Homo sapiens: one gene and its partners. The protein of the gene in region 2 purifies or fractionates together with the protein of the main gene of each other region. This does not show direct contact. Each region holds a gene or a part of one and is shown on either strand. Other genes may lie near its edges.

Evidence for each region. Proteins that work in one complex are often made in the same cells at the same time.
Region 1: the proteins of NOC2L (region 2) and RBM34 purify together in Homo sapiens (affinity purification with mass spectrometry; 2 studies listed by BioGRID and IntAct, with this or other methods). This does not show direct contact.
Region 3: the proteins of NOC2L (region 2) and MAK16 purify together in Homo sapiens (affinity purification with mass spectrometry; 2 studies listed by BioGRID and IntAct, with this or other methods). This does not show direct contact.

Annotation. Positions count from the first base shown.
Region 1 is NC_000001.11:235,158,242-235,165,819, forward strand, and holds the start of RBM34 (RNA-binding protein 34), read right to left. Parts: upstream 3,010-7,578; 5' UTR 2,986-3,009; coding exon 2,933-2,985; intron 2,827-2,932; coding exon 2,652-2,826; exon of another isoform or gene 2,407-2,651; coding exon 2,270-2,406; intron 2,261-2,269; exon of another isoform or gene 1-2,260.
Region 2 is NC_000001.11:949,255-956,275, reverse strand, and holds part of NOC2L (nucleolar complex protein 2 homolog), read left to right. Parts: intron 1-60; coding exon 61-181; intron 182-262; coding exon 263-353; intron 354-2,193; coding exon 2,194-2,272; intron 2,273-2,383; coding exon 2,384-2,494; intron 2,495-2,987; coding exon 2,988-3,101; intron 3,102-3,675; coding exon 3,676-3,864; intron 3,865-4,136; coding exon 4,137-4,276; intron 4,277-5,037; coding exon 5,038-5,149; intron 5,150-7,021.
Region 3 is NC_000008.11:33,480,441-33,488,190, forward strand, and holds the start of MAK16 (protein MAK16 homolog), read left to right. Parts: upstream 1-4,741; 5' UTR 4,742-4,766; coding exon 4,767-4,781; intron 4,782-7,750.

The DNA.
Region 1 (7,578 bases), about 230 Mb from region 2:
CCATCTCTACCAAAAAAATACAAAAATTAGCTGGGTGTGGTGGTGGGCGCCTGTAATCCCAGCTACTCAGGAGGCTGAGGCAGGAGAATCGCTTGAACCCAGAGGCGGAGGTTGCAGTGAGCAAAAATTGCACTGTTGCTCTCCAGCCTGGGCGACAACAGTGAAACGCCATCTCAAAACAAAAAAAAAAAACAAAAAAAAACGAGGGATAAGGGAAAGAGGCGAACGTGGATGGATCTGACGGCACAGTCCCTAAAAAGGCAGAACATATGTGGTACACACAGCACCCAGGTGGTTGAGTTAATCTTGGACAAGAGGGAAGACACTCTGCTCTAAGAAAGAGGGGAAGAAATATGGCTGTGTACAGATGCATTAAGTTTAAATAGGACAAAAAGTAGCAGTTCCCAACTGTCAGTGATTAACAGCTCCAGAACTGGTACAAAGGTCTTCAGTTGAAATGAGAAAAGGGAAAAGGAAATAAGGGGCTTGAGGAGAGTGGCAAAGAAGAGAGGAATGAAGACTGTTAGCTAGGTACACGTGATGGGATCACTATTTGCATCTTGATTCAAATACACTGTTAAACAACGTTATGCTGGCCGGGCATGGTGGGTCATGCCTGTAATCCTAGCACTTGGGGAGACGGAGGTAGGAGGATGGTTTGAGCCCAGGAGTTCAGGACTAGCCTGGGCAACATAGCAAGACCCTGTTTCTATTTTTTTACTAAAAAAAAAAAAAAAATGCTGACTGGATCACTTGAGTCCAGCAGTTTGCGACCAGCCTGGGCAACATGGCAAAATCCCGTCTCTACAAAACATACAAAAATTAGCTGGGCATGGTGGGGCATGCCTATAGTCTAAGCAACACAGGAGGCTGAGGTGGGCGGCTGGATTGAGTCTGGGAAGCAAAGATTGCAGTGAGCCGCAATCGCACCACTGCACTCCAACCTGGGTGACAGAGCCAGACCTTGTCTCAAAAAAAAAAAAAAAAAGTTAATGAGGGAAATGAATAAATTTAAGAACACCAAACTCGGCCAGGTGTGATGGCTCACGTATGTAATCCCAGCACCTTGGGAGGCGGAGGCAAGTGGATCATGAGGTCAAGAGTTCGAGACCAGACTGGTCAATATGGTGACACCCCGTCTCTACTAAGAATACAAAAATCAGCTGGGTGTGATGGCGCGCCCATAGTCCCAGCTGCTCAGTAGGCTGAGGCAGAAGAATCACTTGAACCCAGGAGGCGGAGGTTGCAGTGAGTCAAGATTGCGCCACTGCACTCCAGCCTTGGCGACAGAGTGAGACTCCAGCTCAAAAAAAAAAAAAAAAATTTTTTTTTTAAAAAGCAAACCAGGCCAGGTGCAGTGGCTCATGCCTATAATCCCTGCACTTTAGGAGGCTGAGGTGGGTGGATCACCTGAGGTCAGGAGTTCAAGACCAACCTGGCCAACATGATGAAACTCTGTCTCTACTAAAAACACAAAAAATTAACCGGGCATGGTGGCACCTGTAATCTCAGCTCCACGGGAGGCCTGAGGCAGGAAAAATCACTTAAACCCGGGAGGTGGAGGTTGCAGTGAGCTGAGATCAGGCCACTGCACTCCAGTCTGGACAAAAAGAGCAAAACTCCGTCTCAAAAAAAAAAAAAGAAACGCAAACCAAATTCTTTTATATACATGCTGAAATATTTATAGATGAAACATAAATTTTCATTTTGCTTCCAAATAATGAGGTGGTAGCTGGGCGAGGTGGCTCACACCTGTAATCTCAACACTTTCGGAGGCCGAGGTGGGCAGATCGCTTGAGGTCAGGAGTTCCAGACCTGCCTGGCCAACATGGTGAAACCCTGTCTCCACTAAAAATACAAAAATTAGCTGGGCATGGTGACGCAGGCCTGTAGTCCCACCTACTCAGGGCCGAGGCAGGAGAATCGCTTGAACCTGGGAAGCGGAGGTTGCAGTGAGCTGAGATCACTGCACTCTACTGCAGCCTGGGCGTGGCATCAAGACTCCATCTCAAAACAAACAAAAACAAATAATGAGGGGGTATATGAGTGGGGTAAAAATACAAAAAGGTTAGCCAAATATTAGTAATTGCTGATGCTGAGTACACGGGGTTTCTTAGCCTTTTCAACTTTTCTATATGTACTGGATTTTCCATAATAAAAGTTTTGAAAGAAAGTAGAAATATGAAATAAAACTGACGAATATTCCAAGTATAGGAATGTTAATTTACCATCTAATTTCTTTAACATCAAATAAGAGAATTTTACCAACCTGTCTGCCAACTTTTTTTCTGCGTTAGTGTGTTTCTTCTTCGCTTTCACTTTTTTGGCAGGTTCTTGCGAAAGTGGTCTTTCAATCTGGGATGTACTTTCTTCCTCCTCATTCCGTTTCGTTTTTTTGATGGTTTGCTTTTTAAAAGTTTGAAGTTATATTTGAGACCCCATACTTCTAGAATTCTGACCCTAAGCCATAATTCAGTCTTTCTAAATGAGAATCTCTTCTCTCTCACTGGTATGTAAGAGTCATGAAAGGTTACTTAAAATGAATCCTGTCTGCCCCCTTTAGAAATCACGCTTCACGCGGTAGGTAAGAAGATTGCTTTGTATGTAAGTGGTTCTAACGAGCTATTCGGGAAGAAAGCCCAGTGACTTACTTTAGGCACAGGCACGTACACGGGTTGAATCTGGGGCTCCAGAGAACTGAAGAGGGACGCCAGCCGACCGGTGCCACCTCTGGAATGGTGTTCGCCGCGAAATAAGCTACTGGCGACCTGTCCAAGCCTGTAGTCTTCCGGCGGACTCCCGCGAACGCCGTCGTCAGGATTCTCTCTAGAAATGGACGACAGAAACTCAGCCACGCCACGCACCACCGCTTCGCCAGCACGAGGGAACGTACAACATCCCTCCCCAGGTACTCGTGCCGCGCGCCACTCACCCCTCCTGGACACTTCTCTTTCTCTTCCGTTTGCTCATCCCTTCCAAGGCCATTCTTACTCCAAAGACTCCCAGACTGCAGCTGCGCGCCAGCTCGCACTTCCGGGTTCCGGGCACTTCCGCTCTCTGGCCACGCCCCCTCCCCTCCGGCAGTCGGCCGCCGGGCGGCGGCGAAGGGAGGCGCTGGGTGAGGGAGCAGGTTTGTCGCCGTCGGTTGGTGGTCCTCGCCGTTTCAGAAAAGCCTCATTTTGGGAGTGAAGGACGTCTTCTGGGAGTGGTTGAAGCCTGCAGTGTGAAGAATCAGCCAGGCTAGGAGCGGGGTGTCCACCCAAGCCGAGAGAGAAACACGTAGAATACTGACTTGTTGAAAAGGAGGGAGGGAGGTTTGGCAAGAAATGCGGTTAGGGGTGAACGCAGTGGGGTGTTTACAATTTGCTAATCGCTGTGAAGAGTACAAAGGAATTCTTTGTACTCTTCTTGCAACTTGTCTGAAACATGACATTATTCCAAAATAAAAACCACAACTCTAACGAGTCACGTCAACATACAATTCGAAAGATTGTAATGCGGACCTGCTATTCTACCTGGAAAAGTAGATACTTGGCATTCAAAACGCTTCAAGGTGTTCTCAGCCCGTCTTCCCAGACTCATCTCCCTCCAGCCCCTGACATTCTAGCCTGCTTTCTCCACTGCCTCTACAGTTGTTATTCCTGTCCCCTCTGTTGTAATTGCCCTCCTCTTTCCCCTTCTGCAAAATAATGTCCATCCTTCAAGGCCTACCTCAGATACTGTCTAACTTAGTATTTCTTTGCAGCCAGGTGCGGTGGCTCGCCTGTAATCCTAACACATTTGGAGGCCGAAGTGGGAGGATTGCGTGAGGACTAGGAGTTTGAACCAGCCTGGTCGATCTAGCGAGACTTATTCTCTACAGAAAAGAAATTAGACGGGCACCTTCGCGCTCGGCGCCTGTAGTCCCAGCACTTTGAGAGGCTCGGGCAAGAGGATCCCTTGAGCCCTGGAAGGTCGAGGCTGCAGTAAGCTGTGATCGCATCACTACACTCCAGCCTAAGCGGCAGACCCTGGCTCAAAAAAAAAAAAAAAAAAATTCTTTGCTATTTACAATAGGGATATTTTCCCAAGCCCCCATGGTACTTACTATAATCATTTTTGGTCTGCTTTAGTGTTAGTTACAGTCTCTTTAGATGTAAAGGCAAGACAGTAAGGATTATGTTTTATTCATCATGTATGCTGTGTCTCTATTAGCTGTACATAGTGAATATTTGTTAAATTGACTCTCAGGGTAATAAAAGATTACTAGTTAAATCATCCAATAGTTTGAGTGGCAAAATAGGATTTGACTTTGTTCTTATTTTCTTTCAGACAAGGTGTTGCTCTGTCACCCAGACTGGAGTGTAGTGGTGAGATCACGGCGCACTGCAGCCTTGACTTCCTGGGCTCAAGCCATCCTCCCACCACGGAGTAGCTGGAACTGCAAGCAGCAGCACCATGCCCAGCTAATTTTTTTTTTTTTTTTGGAGACAGAGTCTCGCTCTGTCGCCCAGGCTGGACTGCAGTGGCGCGATCTCAGCTCACTGCAACCTCCGCCTCCCGGGTTCAAGTGAGTCTCCTGCCTCAGCCTCCCAAGTAGCTGGGATTACAGGTGCATGCCACCATGCCCAGCTAATTTTTGTATTTTTTTAGTAGAGACCGGGTTTCACCATGTTAGCCAGGCTGGTCTCGAACCCCTGACCTTGTGATCCGCCCACCTCAGCCTCCCAAAGTGCTGGGAGTACAGGTGTGAGCCACCGCGCCTGGCCTTTTTTTTTTTTTTTTTTTTTAAATAGAGATTGGGGTTTCACTGTGTTTCCCAGGCCGGTCTTGAACTCCTGAGCTTGAGCAGTCCTCCTGCCTTGGCCTCCCAAAGGGTTGGAATTACAGGCGTGAGCCACTGCATCCAGCCAGGATTTGACTTTGAGTCTTTTGGGGACAGCCTAAGCTTTTTGAAAGCTACTCAACCAAGTTGACTGGGAATATATGTGACTTTTACTTCCCCCTTCAGAGAAATTTATGAAAAAAATCCACAATATTCAACTGCTCGGCCCTGGGTTTTGATTACTGGGCCCCTTATTTTGGTTTCCCATAATCTTGATCTTCTGGTATTTCACAAAGATGAAGAAAGCTTATCCATACATGCATGCGATACAACTCAAAAATCTGTTCTATCCAGTCCAGTGAAGAAATTATATTCTATATTTCTAGAATTATAGAATTCTATTCTGTGTATTTTTTGAGACGGAGTTTCACTCTTGTTGCCCAGGCTGGAGTGCAGTGGCACGATCTTGGCTCATTGCAACCTCCGCCTCCCAGGTTCAAGCGATTCTCCTGCCTCAGCCTCCCGAGTAGTTGGGATTACAGGCATGCACCACCATGCCTGGCTAATTTTATATTTTTAATAGAGACAGGGTTTCTCCATGTTGGTCGGGCTGGTCTCGAACTCCTGACCTCAGGTGATCCGCTCGCCTTGACCTCCCAACGTGCTGGGATTACAGGTATGACCCACTGTGCCCAGCTAGGTAGCAGATACTTATAGAAGAAAACAGACTGCGAAAGCAGCTGTGGTTGCAGATAGTTTTAAAATTATCTTCATTGCTGTTCAGTGCTGTTTTTAACCATTTAGAGATCACTTACTGCTTTGAGAGTTTTTTAAAATATGAGGACATGGTGGGACAAGGTGGCTCACGCCTATAATCCCAGCACTTTGGGAGACCAAGACGGAAGGAATGCAAGCCCAGGAGTTTCAGATCAGCGACTGCGCCATTTGCACTCCAGCCTGGGCAACAAGAGCGAAACTCCGTCTCAAAAAAACAAAAGGAGGCCGGGTGCGGTGGCTTACGCCTGTAATCCCAGCGCTTTGGGAGGCCGAGGTGGGTGGATCATCTGAGGTCAGAAGTTTGAGATCAGCCTGGCCAACATGGTGAAACCCCATCTCTACTAAAAATACAAAAATTAGCTAGGCATGGTGGCGGGCGCCTGTAATCCCAGCTAGTCGGGAGGCTGATGCAGGAGAACCACTTGAACCCGGGAGGCAGAGGTTGCAGTGAGCCAAGATGGCGCCATTATACTCCAGCCTGGGCGACAGAGCGAGATTCTGTCTAAAACAAAACAAAACAAACAAAAAAAAGAAATTAACAAGACCCCACTCTAAAGTTTTTTCAGTAGGAAAAAAAACGTTTTGGAGAACACCGTTAAGAAACGTATCATCTTGGGTGGGCGCGGTGGCTCATGCCTGTAATCCCAACACTTTGTGAGGTCAAGGCGGGCAGATTACGAGGTCAGGAGATCGAGACCATCCTGACTAACACGGTGAAACACCCCTCTCTACTAAAAATACAAAAAATTAGCTGGGTGCAGTGGCACGTGCCTGTAGTCCCAGCTACTCGGGAGGCTGAAGTAGGAGGATCACTTGAACCTGGGAGGCAGAAGTTGCAGTGAGCCAAGATTGCACCACTGCACTCCAGCCTGGGGCAACAGAGTGAGACTCCGTCTCAAAAAAAGAAAAAAAAGAAAAGAAAAACATACCATCTTAATATGTCAATTGTAAACTAACTTAGTAAAGTCTAGTTTAGGTGACCAGAAGTAGACATAGGTCAATTCTACTAATTCAATAAAATCCTCAAACCCTCTTAAGAAGGTAGGACGTAGAACAAGAAGGCAGGCGAGACAGAGAGGCACAAAGTCATAAATCTCGACTCCACCAAAATTTGGAATAATTCCCCTATTCAGCACTGTTTCTATAACATACTCAGTATGTGATATTAAGAGCTCCTCAAAAAACAGGGTTTCATGATTAGGTGGGATTGAAAACAGTAGGGTAAAGGAAGTTATTAGGCAGGTATCTCTTCACAGGCCTTCTCAAAGTTTTTAATATGCAAACACTGTGATTCTCTAAGAATGTGCTATACATAGATTTTCCAAAATATATTTGGTTATAAATTCCCAGAGCATTTCCAGGGACCAGTATTCTAGGAATTCATTTTGGGAAGCACCGTTCCACAGATTTAAAATATCATCCCTTAAACTAATTTTTGTGAAAATAAAGGGCCACCACAAAGATGCTTTAAAAAATATGTATTTAAGCTTTCTAGGCCTTAAAAAAGTTGATTTCCTTTCTCGTTTTTGTTTTTGTTTTTGTTTTTTTTTGAGACGGAGTTTCAATCTTGTTTCCCAGGCTGGAGTGCAATCTTGGCTCACTGCAACCTCCGCCTCCCAGGTTCAAGCGATTCTCCTGCCTCAGCCTCCCTAGTAGCTGGGATTACAGGCATGCGCCACCATGACCGGCTAATTTTGCATTTTTAGTAGAGACAGGGTTTCACCATGTTGGTCAGGCTGGTTTCGAACTCCTGACCTCAGGTGATCCACCCACCTCAACCTCCCAAAGTGCTGGGATTACAGGCATTAAGCCACCACGCCCGGCCTCTCTCTGTATTAAAGAAAGGTTTTCTTTTTTTTGAGGCGGAGTCTCGCTCTGTTGCCCAGGCTGGAGTGCAGTGGCACGATCTCGGCTTACTGCAAGCTCCGCCCCCCAGGTTCATGCCATTCTCCTGCCTCAACCTCTCGAGTAGCTGGGACTACAGGCGCCCACTACCA
Region 2 (7,021 bases):
TCCACTCTGCCAAGTGCAGTCTCAGCTCCCCTGACGCCCCTGGTACTCTTGCTCCTTCAGCAACGCCTCACTCCAAAGCTGTTCCATGAAGTGGTACAGGCGTTCCGAGCAGCTGTGGCCACCACCCGAGGGGACCAGGAAAGTGCTGAGGCCAACAAATTCCAGGTCACGGACAGTGCTGGTGAGCTTGGGGGGAGCCTGGCATCCAGGCTGTCTGTTGCGTTCTCTGTCCCGTGAGTACATCCAGGCCTTTTCGTTGCAGCATTCAATGCTCTGGTTACCTTCTGCATCAGAGACCTCATTGGCTGTCTCCAGAAGCTGCTGTTTGGAAAGGTGGCAAAGGATAGCAGCAGGTAAGAGGGGAGGGGGTGAAGGGGGGTAGGGTGGAAGGTGGGTCGGGACCACACACAGGAGAAGCCAGAGGCCTTGTGGCTAGGACAGAGACATGGCAACAGAGCCAGCGTCTTCTTGGGGACCCTGAGAAGGCAGCGGGGCACGAGGGACCGTTGGGAGAGGCTGGGCACTTGGGGCCAGTTGGAGCGGCCCCACCTTCTTTCCTTCCTGAAAAGGGAAGTTGTCTGCTCAGAGTCTCAGAAGGTGTGGCGTGTGCAGCTGCCTTTGCTCTCAGATTTTCCCAGGTTAGGGTTCTTGCTCTATTTCCCTTTGTAAGAACTTGTAAGTCCTGTCCATACTCCTTGATCTCTGCACTATGACTGGCCTGTTTCCTGGAGCTGTGTGTGTCTGTAGACAGGGGCCTCATCAATGCTGAGAACCTGAGGGCCTCAACTTCCCCTTTAGAGAAAGATTGGGCAGAGAAGGCCGTGGAAGGTTTTCAGAGAAGAGAGACGCACGGCCAAGCATTTGGTAGAGCATGGAGCACGTTGGGGTTCCGGGGCTGTGCAGCCATGTGACCTTGAGGCAGTGGAGGCCTAGAGTTGGAACTGCCCCAGGACACCTTCAAAGGAAGAAAGGAGACCCACAGGAGAGGTCTCGCCGACAGCGGCTCAGGAGACAGGGGCACTGTTGCTGGTGGTAGTGGTCGGGGCTGGACGGATAGAACAGAGCCATGTCCACATGGAGGCAGTGCTGTCCGAAGGGGACAAGGAAGCTGGCAGATGGGGGTGGAGGGACAGGCAGCGATTGGGAGGCAGCACGCACTGCAGCCTGAGCCACCAGGTCAGGGACCCCTGTCGAGGCAGCAGCTGTACCGGAGGGAGTCAGGCCGTGGGGAGCAGAGCTGCCTCCTGGGTCTGGGTGGGCAGCTGCAGGTGCCCAGCAGCCAGTGTCAGCACAGGTGTGAGGAGGGTCGAGGACGGGGGGCCTTTCTGGGGCCCTGCCCTTTGTCCTTCCCATGCTTCAGCAGATTTTAGTGAGCGCCTACTGCGTGGGCTCTGGTAAATGTTTTGTTTTGTTTTGTTTTGTTTGTTTGGTTTTTGGTTTTTTTTTTTCCTTACGAGATAGGATCTTGCTCTGTCGCCCAGGCTGGAATGCAGTGATCATAGCTCACTGCGACACGTACCTTCTGGATTCAAGTGATTCTCTCACCTTAGCCTCCCAAGTAACTGGGACTCCGCCACCAGGCCTGGATAATATTTTGTATATTTTTGTAGAGACGGGGTCTCACTGTGTTGTTCAGGCTGGTCTCAAACTCCTGGGCTTGGAGTTTGATCCTCCTGCCTTGGCCTCCCAAAGTGCAGTGAGTACTGGCATGAGTCTCCACACCTGCCCTCTGATTTTCTTTTCTTTGTGCAGCAAATGTGGGCCAAAGGAAACCAGTCTGCGGCAGTTGGTGGTGCCTGGGCGACCCCAGAGGTGCTGAGTACCAGCTGCTGGGCTTAGGGACCTCGTGTGGTCTCACGGTGGGGATGTGATCAAGGGGACCTAGAAAAGGTTTATGTCTGAGAGGGAGTTGGAGGCTGGGACTTCCGGGGACTCTTAGGGCGGTGGCCAACCCTGGGCAGGGCAGACAGGAGTTCAAGGCCACTGAAGGAGGAGCTAATGCACTTGAGAGGGTCCTCCTAAGCCCCTGTGTCTGTCCAGCTGTAAGGGGCCCTGAGCTTTTTTGAGTGGAGAGACGGGGGGTCTCTGCAGAGTCGTAGAGGCTATGCTGGCCAGGGCACGCGCCAACATGCTGAGCAGCCTCGCGTCCGAGCCGTGGGGCCTCCCAGCCAGGGGTGGGTGGTCTCTCTGCAGGATGCTGCAGCCGTCCAGCAGCCCGCTCTGGGGGAAGCTTCGTGTGGACATCAAGGCTTACCTGGGCTCGGCCATACAGGTGCTATTCTGGTGGGGAGGGCACGGGGGCCTGGCTGTATCTGGTGGTCGGTCCTTTTTTGTATCCCAGAATACATGGGTTTGGGGCTTCACTGTCCCCTCCTGCCCCCAGCTGGTGTCCTGTCTGTCGGAGACGACGGTGTTGGCGGCCGTGCTGCGGCACATCAGCGTGCTGGTGCCCTGCTTCCTGACCTTCCCCAAGCAGTGCCGCATGCTGCTCAAGGTTCGTGGCCCAGTCCCCTCCCTGTGTCTGTCATGGGGTCGGGGGGCCACACGGCTACCCCCACCACATCCCACTCCTGGCCAGGGCACAGGTGGTGCCCACACTCCACTGGCTCCGCTTGGCTAGAGAGGCCACAGAAGCACCTGGCCCCCACCCCCACCTGGGGTTTCTGTCTCAGGCAGTCCCTGCCTGCCCGGGCAGCGCGGCTCAGTCCGTGAGCAAAGCCACGGTGAGGTATCTTCTTCCCGGTGTGATCTCACATACGTCGGCGTGTCTGACGTGGTAAACTTTTGTGGTCCTCTTCTCACAAGGAGCAACACACCTGTTCTGTTCACTTCTGTAACTGAGCACCTAACTCACGGCTCCCCCGAGGTGCTTTGGGAAGAGCTGGTGGCCATGGGAGCCTTTGCCTGGCTGGGGAGGGCTGTGCTGGCCCTGGGGCATCCCTGCTGAGGAGGCTGGGGGGCCACCAGTGACGTCTGACCTTCTGCAGAGAATGGTGATCGTATGGAGCACTGGGGAAGAGTCTCTGCGGGTGCTGGCTTTCCTGGTCCTCAGCAGAGTCTGCCGGCACAAGAAGGACACTTTCCTTGGCCCCGTCCTCAAGGTAGTGGTGGGCCCTGCGTCTGTGTCCCTCAGCATCTGCATTGGAAATCTCGGCCTAAGGGCAGGGCGGGCTGCCTTTGTGGTTGGTGCCCCTCACTGGACCCTCACTGCAGCTCTGAGCAGACCTGGGCCCTTGGATCACGAATGTCTCACAGAGCACCTGGGGGTGGTGGGCAGGGAAGAGAGCCCTCGGCCTTCTCAGGGCCCCACCTGGACCCTGCTTCACACAGCTTCCCCAGGGGAGGGCCTCTCTGGCTGGAGGAGGACACTGGGTGTTGGGACCTGAGGCCATGGCCAGGGTACAGTCCTACTGCCCGTCCCCAAGCCATGGGTGGCCTGCATGTGGGGACCCTCAGCCCCCAGAGGGGCCCAGTGTGCAGCAGGAGCTTCTGCCCCAGCTTCTCCCAGGCCTGAGGCTGGTGGGCACTTGGGGGTGGGGGCTGTGCAAGGGGCTACGGCTCTTCCTCGAGGCCCAGCTCTGAGGGAAAGGCCCAGGTGTTCACAGGGGCCCTGGAGTGGGCGGTGGAGGTGCATGGCCCTGATCCCAGGTGGCTCTGACCCGGGTCTCTCCGCAGCAAATGTACATCACGTATGTGAGGAACTGCAAGTTCACCTCGCCTGGTGCCCTCCCCTTCATCAGTTTCATGCAGTGGACCTTGACGGAGCTGCTGGCCCTGGAGCCGGGTGTGGCCTACCAGCACGCCTTCCTCTACATCCGCCAGCTCGCCATACACCTGCGCAACGCCATGACCACTCGCAAGAAGGTGTGTGGTGGGGCCCTTCCAGGCTCATGCTGGGCATGGGGTGGGGCAGCCCAGGTGCCCGACCCAAGGCAGGGCCTGGGGCCTCCCCGAAGCCCCTGTCTGGAGACAGCCCAGCACCCTGGTGCAGTCGGTCCTTGCAGGTGGGGGAAGGGTGGATGGGTTGAGACCCCGTGTGCAAGATGAGGAAATGATTCCTGTGCCGGCCCAGGAGGAACGTGCATCAGCCTGACTTGTCAGCCTGGCCAGTAGCTGACGTGGTTCTCTCTGACCAGGAAACATACCAGTCTGTGTACAACTGGCAGTATGTGCACTGCCTCTTCCTGTGGTGCCGGGTCCTGAGCACTGCGGGCCCCAGCGAAGCCCTCCAGCCCTTGGTCTACCCCCTTGCCCAAGTCATCATTGGCTGTATCAAGTGAGTTGTGGGGTGGGCAGGGTTGTGCGGGAGGGTCAGGAGAAGCAAATTTGCTGGGACTGTGTGGGCGGTGCCTCTGGCGTTCAGGGCCTTGGGGCCTGAGTCTGTGTCCTGGCCGTCCCTGAGGAAGGGCTGGGGTCCCTGTACCTGCTACGGGGAGATGCTCTGGATTCTGGAGAGCTAGGGCTGGTGGGCACCTGTGACATGAGCTCCTCCAACAGCGGTTTAGCCGCCTCGGGTGCCACCCAGCGTGTGTTCTGGGGGCTTGTGTGCAGTTTGCAGTGAGTTTGGTTCATTACGTGGGGTTCTTGGGTGGAGCACATCTGATGCAGTGAACTGCATTTTGGGTGTGAGCGCTTAGGAGGGTCCAGGCACGGTAGGGGCTGCAGCAGGAAAAGGTGGGAGCAGTACTGTGGCCTCTTTGGCCAGGAGGGGGCATCTGTCTGGCTGAGCCTTAGAAACTCAAGGCTGGGAAGGGAGGTGGGAAGTCCAAGGGAAGAAGTAGGAAAGGCGGGAACAGGGAGGAGAGCAGGCAGGAACAGATGACCCCTGCCACCGTGTTGAAATAAAGCTGAAAGCTGGGTAAGGTACCTGCAGCCCCATAGCTGGGCAAGGGGTGCAGGTCCCTGGGGTTCAGACGTGCCTTGTCCTGCTTTAGGGGTCTGATGTCGGTGAGTGGGGGAGGAGGTCCAAGACAGCAGGGGGAGGGGCAGGGGCTGCCAGAGCCGGGGCCTCTGCTCACTCGGCCTTCCCACCCCCAGGCTCATCCCCACTGCCCGCTTCTACCCGCTGCGAATGCACTGCATCCGTGCCCTGACGCTGCTCTCGGGGAGCTCGGGGGCCTTCATCCCGGTGCTGCCTTTCATCCTGGAGGTGAGTGAGGCTGTGGTGGGCGTGTGGCACCTCTGCCTGCTCCTGTAGGGAGCATCTGCTGCTCCGGGCGTCTGTGCTGAGTTGTCCGGCGACTTCCCGGAGCCCTGGCCGCCTCCTTGTCACGGGTGTCACGAGGACAGTGCTCCTCCGTGTGCTGGGGGCAGTGTTGGGGAACGTGGGACCACTGGGGATGAAGGCGGCTGCTGCTAGGGCTGTGCTTGAGGATGCCGGGACCTGACCCTGTAGGTGCTTGCCCAAGACTGGAGTAGGCAGGAGGCGAGATGGGCCAAAACCCAAGTCTGATTGCTGAACTGTACACTGAACAGTGCCCTGCCCTGACAGTTGTGTGCATGTGTATGCATTTGTATGGGGGATGTGTGTACATCTGGGTGGGTGCGTTTGTCTGTGCATGCATGCGTGTGTGTGCACCATCTGGGTGCATGGGTCTGTAAATCTGTGTGTGTGTGCATATCAGTTCATGTGTGCATCTGTATGTGTGTATGCACGTGTATCCATGAATGCCTGTGTGCCTGCAGGTGTGTGCATCTGTGCGTGTGTACACCTGTGTGTATGCATGTGTGTACCTTTGCGTGTACCTTTGCGTGTGTGCACCTGTGCATGTGTCTTTGTATACCAGTGTGTACCTGTGTGTACCTGTATGCATGCACATGCGTGTGTACCTGTGTGCACCTGTCTGCATGTGTGTACCTGTGCGTGTGTGCACCTGTGTGCATGCATTTGCGTCTGCATGTGTCTACCTGTGCATGCATGAACCTTTGCATGTGTGCATCTGTGTGCATGCATGTGTGTCTGCGTGCATCTATGTACCTGTGTGCACCTATGTGCATACACACGTGTCTGTGTGCACTTGTGTGCATGCATTTGCATCTGCATGTGTGTACTGTGCGTGTGTACCTGTGCGTGTACCTGTACACTTGGGTGCATGCATGCACGTCTGCTTGTGTGTGCCTGTGCGTGTGTGCACCTGTGTGCATGTACGTGCGTCTACGTGTGTGCCTGTGCATGTGTGCGCCTGTGTGTACCTGTGTGTATGCATCTTTGCACGTGCACATGCCACTCAGGTAGGGAAAGATTGGAGTCCGAAGTTTCAACTTTCAGTGGGTGGGTTAGGCCCCACCCCGCTGTAAATTTAGGAATTCACGATCTCCACCCTGTTTATCTAATGAGTTCTCAGCCTCATGAAGGCCCAGAGTCGTGTCACAGCTGTCCTTGGGGCTGGGTCCCCAGGTTGCTGGGTCCAGAAGGTATGGAAGCCCCAGGCACGTTCTGATTCCCCTTCCACTGAGGCAGGGATGCTGAACATCTTTAGGAAGCCATGTTCACTCCCATGGCAGCCAGCAGTGGTCTCTGATTGCCCAGCCCTTGGCCTGGCCCCTGTGTCTGTGGGCCTCCAGCTCTGCTGCCCAGCTCCAGGCATGCTTTGTGTCTGTTTCCCTTGTCCAATCTCCTTGGCTACGTGCTTTCTTACTCTCTTGCAGTGTCTGTTTCTTCACTTGTGCACTGCCCTGGTTCACTGCAGCCGCACCCTGTAGGCCCCTCTCACGCAGGGATGCAGGCCTCTCCTCTCCGGAAAAAGCAAACCCTAAAAGCTAAAACAAAGCCCTCAGCTGTAGGCCGTGCCTGCCCTTCCCCGGTGCCTGGACAGGAAGCCAGTCGCCTGCCCATACTTTTGGCCCAGGCTAGAGAAGGGCAGTGTCCTCCCAGAGGTTCATCAGTACCAGGGCGTTTTCCCATCTGGACCTGAGCTCAGCTGTCTGGCAGCCACCCCTGCTGAGTGGGGTGTCTTGCTGGGGCCTCCACCCTTGGGCCCCCCATAATCTGCTTCTGTCCTCTGGTGCCCCAGCATGTACC
Region 3 (7,750 bases), on a different chromosome or scaffold from region 2:
CTCATTGGCAAGACAGGAGGCTGCAGAAATGACCCTCCCCATAGGACTTCTAAAAAAAAAGTATTGTTTACATTTTATTTATTTGTGTTTTTAAATTGATATATCATAGTTACATATATTTTGGGGGTATGTGTGATACATGTATACAATGTGTAATGATGAAATTAGGGTGATAGAGGTATCCATCACTTCAAACATTTTTCTTTGTGTTGAAAACATTCTAATTCTTCTCTTCTAGCTATTTTGAAATATGCAATAAATTATTGTTAACTATAATTTCCCTACTGTGTTATCAAATACCAGACTTTATCCTTCTATCTAAGTGTTTTTTTTGTACTCATTAACCAACTTCTCTTCCTCCCCCTCCTCTCCATAGGACTTACAATCATTGTGTTGAACTCAAGATCATCCAGCTCCAACAATTTTCTTTCCTTTCCTCCTTTGCAGTTCTAGCTGCTCAATTATTATTTTGGCAACCTAAAAATCACATTAATAAAGAGATGCTAGACCAAAAGAACCCTGAAAGTTAATAAAGAAAAAAAAAGAAAGAAAAAACAAAATAAAGTGATGCTAGACCTCTGATAATGACTCCCATTTCTTCCAGCTAGTCATTACATTTACAGAGAGAGGTTCTTTTTTTTTTTTTTTTTTTTTTTTTTTTTTTTTTTTTTTTTTAATGAGATGGAGTCTCTGTTGCCCAGGCTGGAGTGCAGTGGCGCAATCTCGGCTCACTGCAAGCTCCGCCTCCTTGGTTCAGGCAATTCTCCTGCCTCAGCCTCCCAAGTAGCTGGGATTACAGGCGCCCAGCACCATGCCCAGCTATTTTTTTTTGTACTTTTACTAGAGACAGGGTTTCGCCATGTTGGCCAGGCTGCTCTCAAACTCCTGACCTCAGGTGGTCCACCTGCCTCAGCCTCCCAAAGTGCTGGGATTACAGGCGTGAGCCACAGTGCCTGACAAGATTTATAGAGAGAGGGTCTAAATTCATTCCTGCACATCTCTTCCTTTTGGGGAGCTCTGTGGTTCTGCTAAAACAACAACAAAAAACTATGTATTTTTCTTCTCCTTAAATGGTTTATTCCTCTGATTGTATACAAGCAAACACACATGCTTTACAGATGAGCAACTTTATTAGGTTTAATCCTCCAACAAGCTGCCTTCCACACTTCAGGGTTTCGTGTGTGTGTGTGTGTGTGTGTGTGTACACTTCATAGGAAACCTGACTCTGCCCAGGGTTAGCTCTGGGAAAAGTTGCTGTGGGAGTGGCTGAAGGTGGCAGAGGCCTGGAAGGTAAGACAACGGAGACCCTGTCTCTAAATAAATAAGTAAATAGAGACCTAACAACTAATTTATTGTGAATTTATTATGTACCAGGAACTGTACAGGAGATTGTGGATAAAGAAATGAAAAGACATCATCCTTAATCTTGAAAAGCTCAACGTTGGCCTGGCTTGGGCGCTCACACCTGTAATCCCAGCACTTTGGAAGGCCAAGGTGGGCGGATCACCTGAGGTCAAGAGTTTGAGACCAGCCTGACCAACATGGTGAAACCCTGTCTCTACTAAAAATGTAAATATTAGCTGGGCATAGTGGAACACGCCTGTAGTCCCAGCTGCTTGGGAAGCTGAGGCAAGAGAATCGCTTGAACCCAGCAGGTGGAGGTTGCAATGAGCTGAGATCGCACCACTACACTCCAGCCTGGGCAACAGAGTGAGACTCTGTCTCAAAAAAAAAAAAAAAAAAAAAAAGAAAAGAAAAAAAAAAAACAGAAAAGCTCAAGGCCTAAGAGATAATAAACCAATAACAATAATACAACACTAGTGAGGAATACATAGTGCACTGTGGTAACAGAGGAGAATGCGGGTATGTATAGAGAATGTTGAAATAGCATTACATTTTCTTATCTTTTCTTTTCTTTTTTTTTGAGACTGAGTTGCGCTCTGTCACCCAGGCTGGAGTGCAGTGGTGCGATCTCAGCTCACTGCAACCTCTGCCTTGTGGGTTCAGGCAATTCTCTGCCTCAGCCTCTCGAAGAGTTGGGATAACAGGCACCCACCACCACGCCCGGCTAATTTTTGTATTTTTAGTAGAGACAGGGTTTCACCATCTTGGCCAGGGTGGTTTCGATCTCCTGACCTGCTGATCCATCTGTCTTGGCCTCCCAAAGTGCTGGGATTACAGGTGTGAGCCACCGCACACGGCTAAATTTTCTTTCATTCTTCTTTTGAACTGGAGATTACTTTTTGTTTGTTTGTTTTTTTAATGAGACAGAGTCTCGCTCTGTCACCCACGCTGGAGTGCAGTGGCGGGATCTCGGCTCACCGCAAGCTCTGCCTCACTAAATACTACATAATATCATGATAAATGCTTTTAAACTTTATATCAAATTTCTCATGTGTTTCAGTTGCAGTCAAATCCAGGGTATCCCTAGGGTGACCCCAGTGAGTCCCACTCCCTGGTGTTCATGTCTTGTATCTTCTCCTCCCCTCCAGTGAGGGTGGCACCTGTGACTTGATCTAACCAATGGCATAAGGCAAAGTCTATGGAAAGTCACTGCCATAATTTTTTAAGATTATTTAAGATTATTTAAGATTAACATTATTTAAGATTCTGTTTTAGCAGACTGGAATTTAACTCGTTGCTGGCTTGATGAAGTAAGGAGCTATGTTGAGAAATCCCATGTGGCAAGAAGCCACAGGCAGCCTCTAGGACCTGTGGGTGGCCTCCCGGACACACGCCATCCTTACTGAGACTGTGTCCTTCTTACACTTTTGTTATTAAAATGGTCTTGTTACTGGAAAGTGGTCCCCAATCAGACCCAAGAGAGGGTTCTTGGATCTTAAGCAAGAAAGAATTTGAGGTGAGTCCATAAGTTTCGTAAAGTGAAAGCAAGCTTATTAAGAAAGTAAAGGAATGAAAGAATGGCTACTGCATAGGCAGAGCGGCACCGAGGGCTGCTGGTTGCCCATTTTTATCGCTATTTGTTCATGTATTTTTTGAGACTGATTCTTGCTCTGTTGCCCAGGCTGAAGTGCAGCGGCTTGATCTCAGCTCACTGTAATCTCTGCCTCCCAGATTCAAGTGATTCTCCTGCCTCAGCCTCCCAAGTAGCGGGGACTACAGGTGCCCACCACCACGCCTGGTTAAGTTTTGTATTTTTAGTAGAGATGGGGTTTCACCACGTTGGCCCGTCTGGTCTTGAACTTCTGACCTCGGGTGATCCACCTGCCTCGGCCTCCCAAAATGCTGATTACAGGCGTGAGCCACCAAGCCCAGCCTATTTATTGATTATATGCTAAACACGGAGCGGATTACTTACGCCTCTCCTTTTTAGACCATATAGAGTAATTTCCTGATGTTGCCATGGCATTTGTGGCGCCAGTGGGAGTGTAGCAGTGAGGACGACCAGAGGTCAAACTCATTGCCATCTTGGTTTTGTGGGTCTTGACTGGCTTCTTTACTGCAATCTGTTTTATCAGCAACATCCTTATGACCTGTATTTTGTGCTGACCTCATCCTGTGATTTAGATGGCCTGACCCTCGGGAATGCAGCCTAGCAGATCTCAGCCTTATTTTACCCAGCCACTATTCAAGATGGGGTTGCTCTGGTTCAAATGCCTCTTGACAGTCTTTCTTTCCTTTTCTTTTTTCTTTTTCTTTTTTTTTTTTTGAGAGGTAGTTTTGGTTGTCACCCAGGCTGGAGGGCCACAGCATGATCTCGGCTCACTGCAACCTCCGCCTCCCGGGTTCAAGCGATTCTCCTGCCTCAGCCTCCCAAGTAGCTGGGATTACAGGCACCTGCTACCACGCCCGACTAATTTTTGTATTTTTAGTAGAGACGGGATTTCACTATGTTGGCCAGGCTGGTCTGGAACTCGCCCGCCTAGGCCGCCCAAAGTGCTGAGGTACAGGCGAGAGCCACCGCGCCCGGCCCGGCCGACAGTCTTTCTTCTATAATACGATACAAACTAGTAAAGATTTTCTTTTTCCCCTGGCGGAAAAGAGCTGTTAGGCTTCCAGATTTGTTTTTGTGGGTTATTAGACCTCTACTTTTCTTCTTGGTATTTTCCCTCCCTTATCAACTTTGTTTGTTGTCTCAAATAGGCAATGAGGAAGACACAGGTGTTTATTATTATTGGAATGCTCTTTCCATTTGGTCAGTGGTTTCTCAAAGCAGGAGGAATTCAAGTTCTGAGTTTCTAAAGTCAGGACCCGGTGCCGCACCCAACGTGGGCGTGGGGAGTGGCTAAGTCAGGGTCTGAGGGGCAGGGCCGGGGCCTGGCTGCGAGCTGGGGCCGGGGGACTCGGAGGAGCGGGGACCCAGCCCCGCCGCGCCGCCTGCAGCTTTCCCCAGCCTCCTCCCAGCAGAGGGGAGGCCCGACAGGGAGGGGTCCCATCCTCATGAACGGTCACAAACAGGGCGCTAGGGAAGCACGCCCGACCCCCGCGGTCCCCGCGCTCCAGGATTCGGCAGACTGCGCGCGTCCTGCCTCCCGCGGATCGCACTGGGTCCCAACAGGGTTCCCAGCTCCAGGCTGCGCCCATGAACAAGCCCAGCATTGCGGACGGGCGCGCGCAGACGCCAGCGTGGTGAAGACGCGGGGGCGCGCGCGCGGCGACGAGACTGCCAGGGGACGCTTCGCAACACCGAGAGTCTCAGCGTTTCTCGAGATAGGTGAGGCTGCGCGTTCCGGAACTGGTTTCCCGGAAGGAGCATGTCTGCGCCCGCGATCCGACCGGAAGTTGCACGCTGAGCCGCGGACACCATGCAGTCGGATGATGTGAGTCTCCTCCGGTTGTTCTTACACCCGGGGTTTGCGCAGGGAATTTTGCCCATTTTCGGACACTTAGAAAACGCGTACGCAGCGGGTCTGTTGCCTCGTGCCGCTCTGGATGTGAGGCTTCCGGAACCCCGATTTTCCAACATAGGTTCTCACGCGTGTCTAGCAGGGGTTTACTGCCCGCTGCCCCGGCCGGGTTGTGAGCACAGGACTCCGTCACCTCAGCCCATGGGGTCGATGTGTCCCGTCCTTCGTGCCTACCAATGCAGGACGTCGCGTCATGCTGTCAGCTGTCAGCTGTCAGCTCCGGACTTGGGGTGGGGGGCGGCCCGGGATTTGGCGAAGCTGACTCCAAGTTTAAGCGTCCTTCTCATCCATGTGCGCGTTACTCTTCCATCTGCGTTTCCTGTGTAGGCTTTTCTTTACATTTGCTCTACTTCTGCCTAAGTCATAATTTCGGAAGTATCCTAGATTCATTCATTGAGTTTTTTGTTGGAGAAATAACAGTGTGCTTACAGTGTGCCAGGCATTGTGGTAATTATTGAGGATTTGGTTAACCAGAAAAAATGTCCCACCTCTCCTGGAACACTGATGGGGGAGACACAGTAAACAAGTGAACAAATAAGTTAACAATTACACTATATAATCATACTATGAAAGAAAGACCAGAGATGATGAAGGACACTTCAGATAGGGTTACTCAGGGAAGGTTTCTCTGAACAGAAGATGTTTGAGTTGAGATCTAAAAGATAAGAATAAGCCAGTCACTGAGGAGCTGAGGAAAAAGCAATCCAGGCAGTAGGAACAGTAAAGTACAAAGAGTTGAAGATATGAGAGAATGAATATAAGGGTCATCAAAGTGACAATGTAAGACAGGTAATGAAATTAGATATGCTTGCCAGGGCGAGGTCATGCAGAATCTTGTAGGAAGTGTTTTTTAGGCCTTTTAATGATCTATGTTTGTGAAAAGTTGTCTAGTTGCTGTGTGAAGGACTTTTGGAGGGAAAAAATGAAAGCAAGGAGACTAGGGTATGACAAAGGTTGCTTCAAGCCAGACACAGTGGCTCATGCCTGTAATCCCAACGCTTTGGGAGGCTGGGGCTGGAGGATCGCTTGAGGCCAGGAGTTCGATTCCAGCCTAGGCAATAAAGTGAGACTCCATCTCTACAAAAAATAAAAAATTAGCTGGGCGCGGTGGTGTTCGCCTGAGGTCCCAGTTACTTCGAAGGCTGAGGCAGAAGGACTACTTGAGCCGAAAAGTCCGAGGCTGCAGTGAGCTATGATGGCACCACTGCACTCCAGCCTGGGTGACAGAGAGACCCTATCTCTAAAGTAAATAAATTTTTTTAAAAACGAAAGTGGCTTCGCCTAAGGTAGTAATTTAATGGTGGAGATGAAAAGAAATTGATGAATTTGAGACCTTTTACGTCAGTATAATTGACAAGACTTTGGTGATGGATTAAGTGAAGAAGAAAAGGAAGAAATCAAAGGATTTGGGATATAAATACATAGTTAAATGGTGATTTTATTTATTGAAGTGGGGGAACTCTAGGGAAGACTGTTCTTACGAGGGATGTGGAATTGAGAACTCCTTGTGGATATGTTAATATTTATGTTGCCTTTTAGATATTGAAGAGATGTCATATAAAAATCTGGTGCTCAGGAAAGAAGTCTGACCAGAAAATAACAATTTAGGAGTCATCCATTTAGAGATGATACTTAAAGCCACAAGCCTAAAAGAGCTCCCTTATTCTTCTTACCTGTTTCCTACCATCCCCCACCAGACACACCTATAAAATTCTTAAAGTGTGTTTTATTCTTTTGCCCTCTTCATATTTTTCCTTTAACAGTGGTAAAGCTTTTTTTTACCCCAGTTCCTCAAGGCAGCGCACTCAAAGGCTGTCATACTCTTACGCATGCTATGTGGCCTTTAGACCTGCTATTTTGTGATACTTTGTTTACATATCTTTCCCCTAACTAGATAGACGAAACTCTTTAAAGAGTATACTTTCTTTCATTCAGCAAATACTTAAGTGGCTACTGTGTGTCAGGACTTGGAGATGTCAGTGCCTTACATAAATTAAGTATATAATGCTGAATGAATAAAGAGCACATTAAGTACAGGAGGATAGCAGTAGATAGTTTTCTTTGCCCTCAATGAGATAAAATTATGGTATGTATATCTAAAAATCTAATACCATGAAGCCTTTTTTTTTTTTTTGGAGATGGATTCTCACTCTGTCGCCCAGGCTGGAGTGCAGTGGCGTGATCTCGGCTTACCGCAACTTCTGCCTCCTGGGTTCAAGCGATTCTCCTGCCTCAGCCTCTCAAGTAGCTGGGATTACAGGCACCTGCCACCACACCTGGCTAATTTTTCTATTAGTAGAGATGGGGTTTCACCATGTTGGCCAGGCTGGCCTCAAACTCCCAACCTCAAGTGATCCGCCTGCCTTGGCACTCAAAGTGCTGGGATTACAGGTGTGAGCCACTACACCCGGCCCATGAGAGCCTTTAATAATGGATAATGAACATAAGTAAAAAGGGAAAGTTACGAAGTATATAAAATGTGATTTCACAGAGTATGTCAAAAAAAGTCTGGAAAAATATTTACAGAATAGTAATGAAATTTTATCTCTGGGTAATGGAGTTATGATTATTGCTCATCTGTATTTAGCTTTTCTATAAGAATCTGCTGGGCTTTTTTGTTTTGTTTTGTTTTGTTTTGAGACGGAGTTTCACTCTTGTTGTCCAGGCTGGAGCGCAATGGCACAATCTCGGCTCACCGCAACCTCCCTCTCCTGGGTTCAAGCGATTCTCCTGCCCCAGCCTCCCGAGTAGCTAGGATTACAGGCATGCGCCACCATGCCCAGCTAATTTTGTATTTTTAATATAAACAGGGTTTCTCCATGTTAATCAGGCTGGTCTCAAACTCCTCACCTCAGGTGATCCGCCCAACTCAGCCTCCCAAA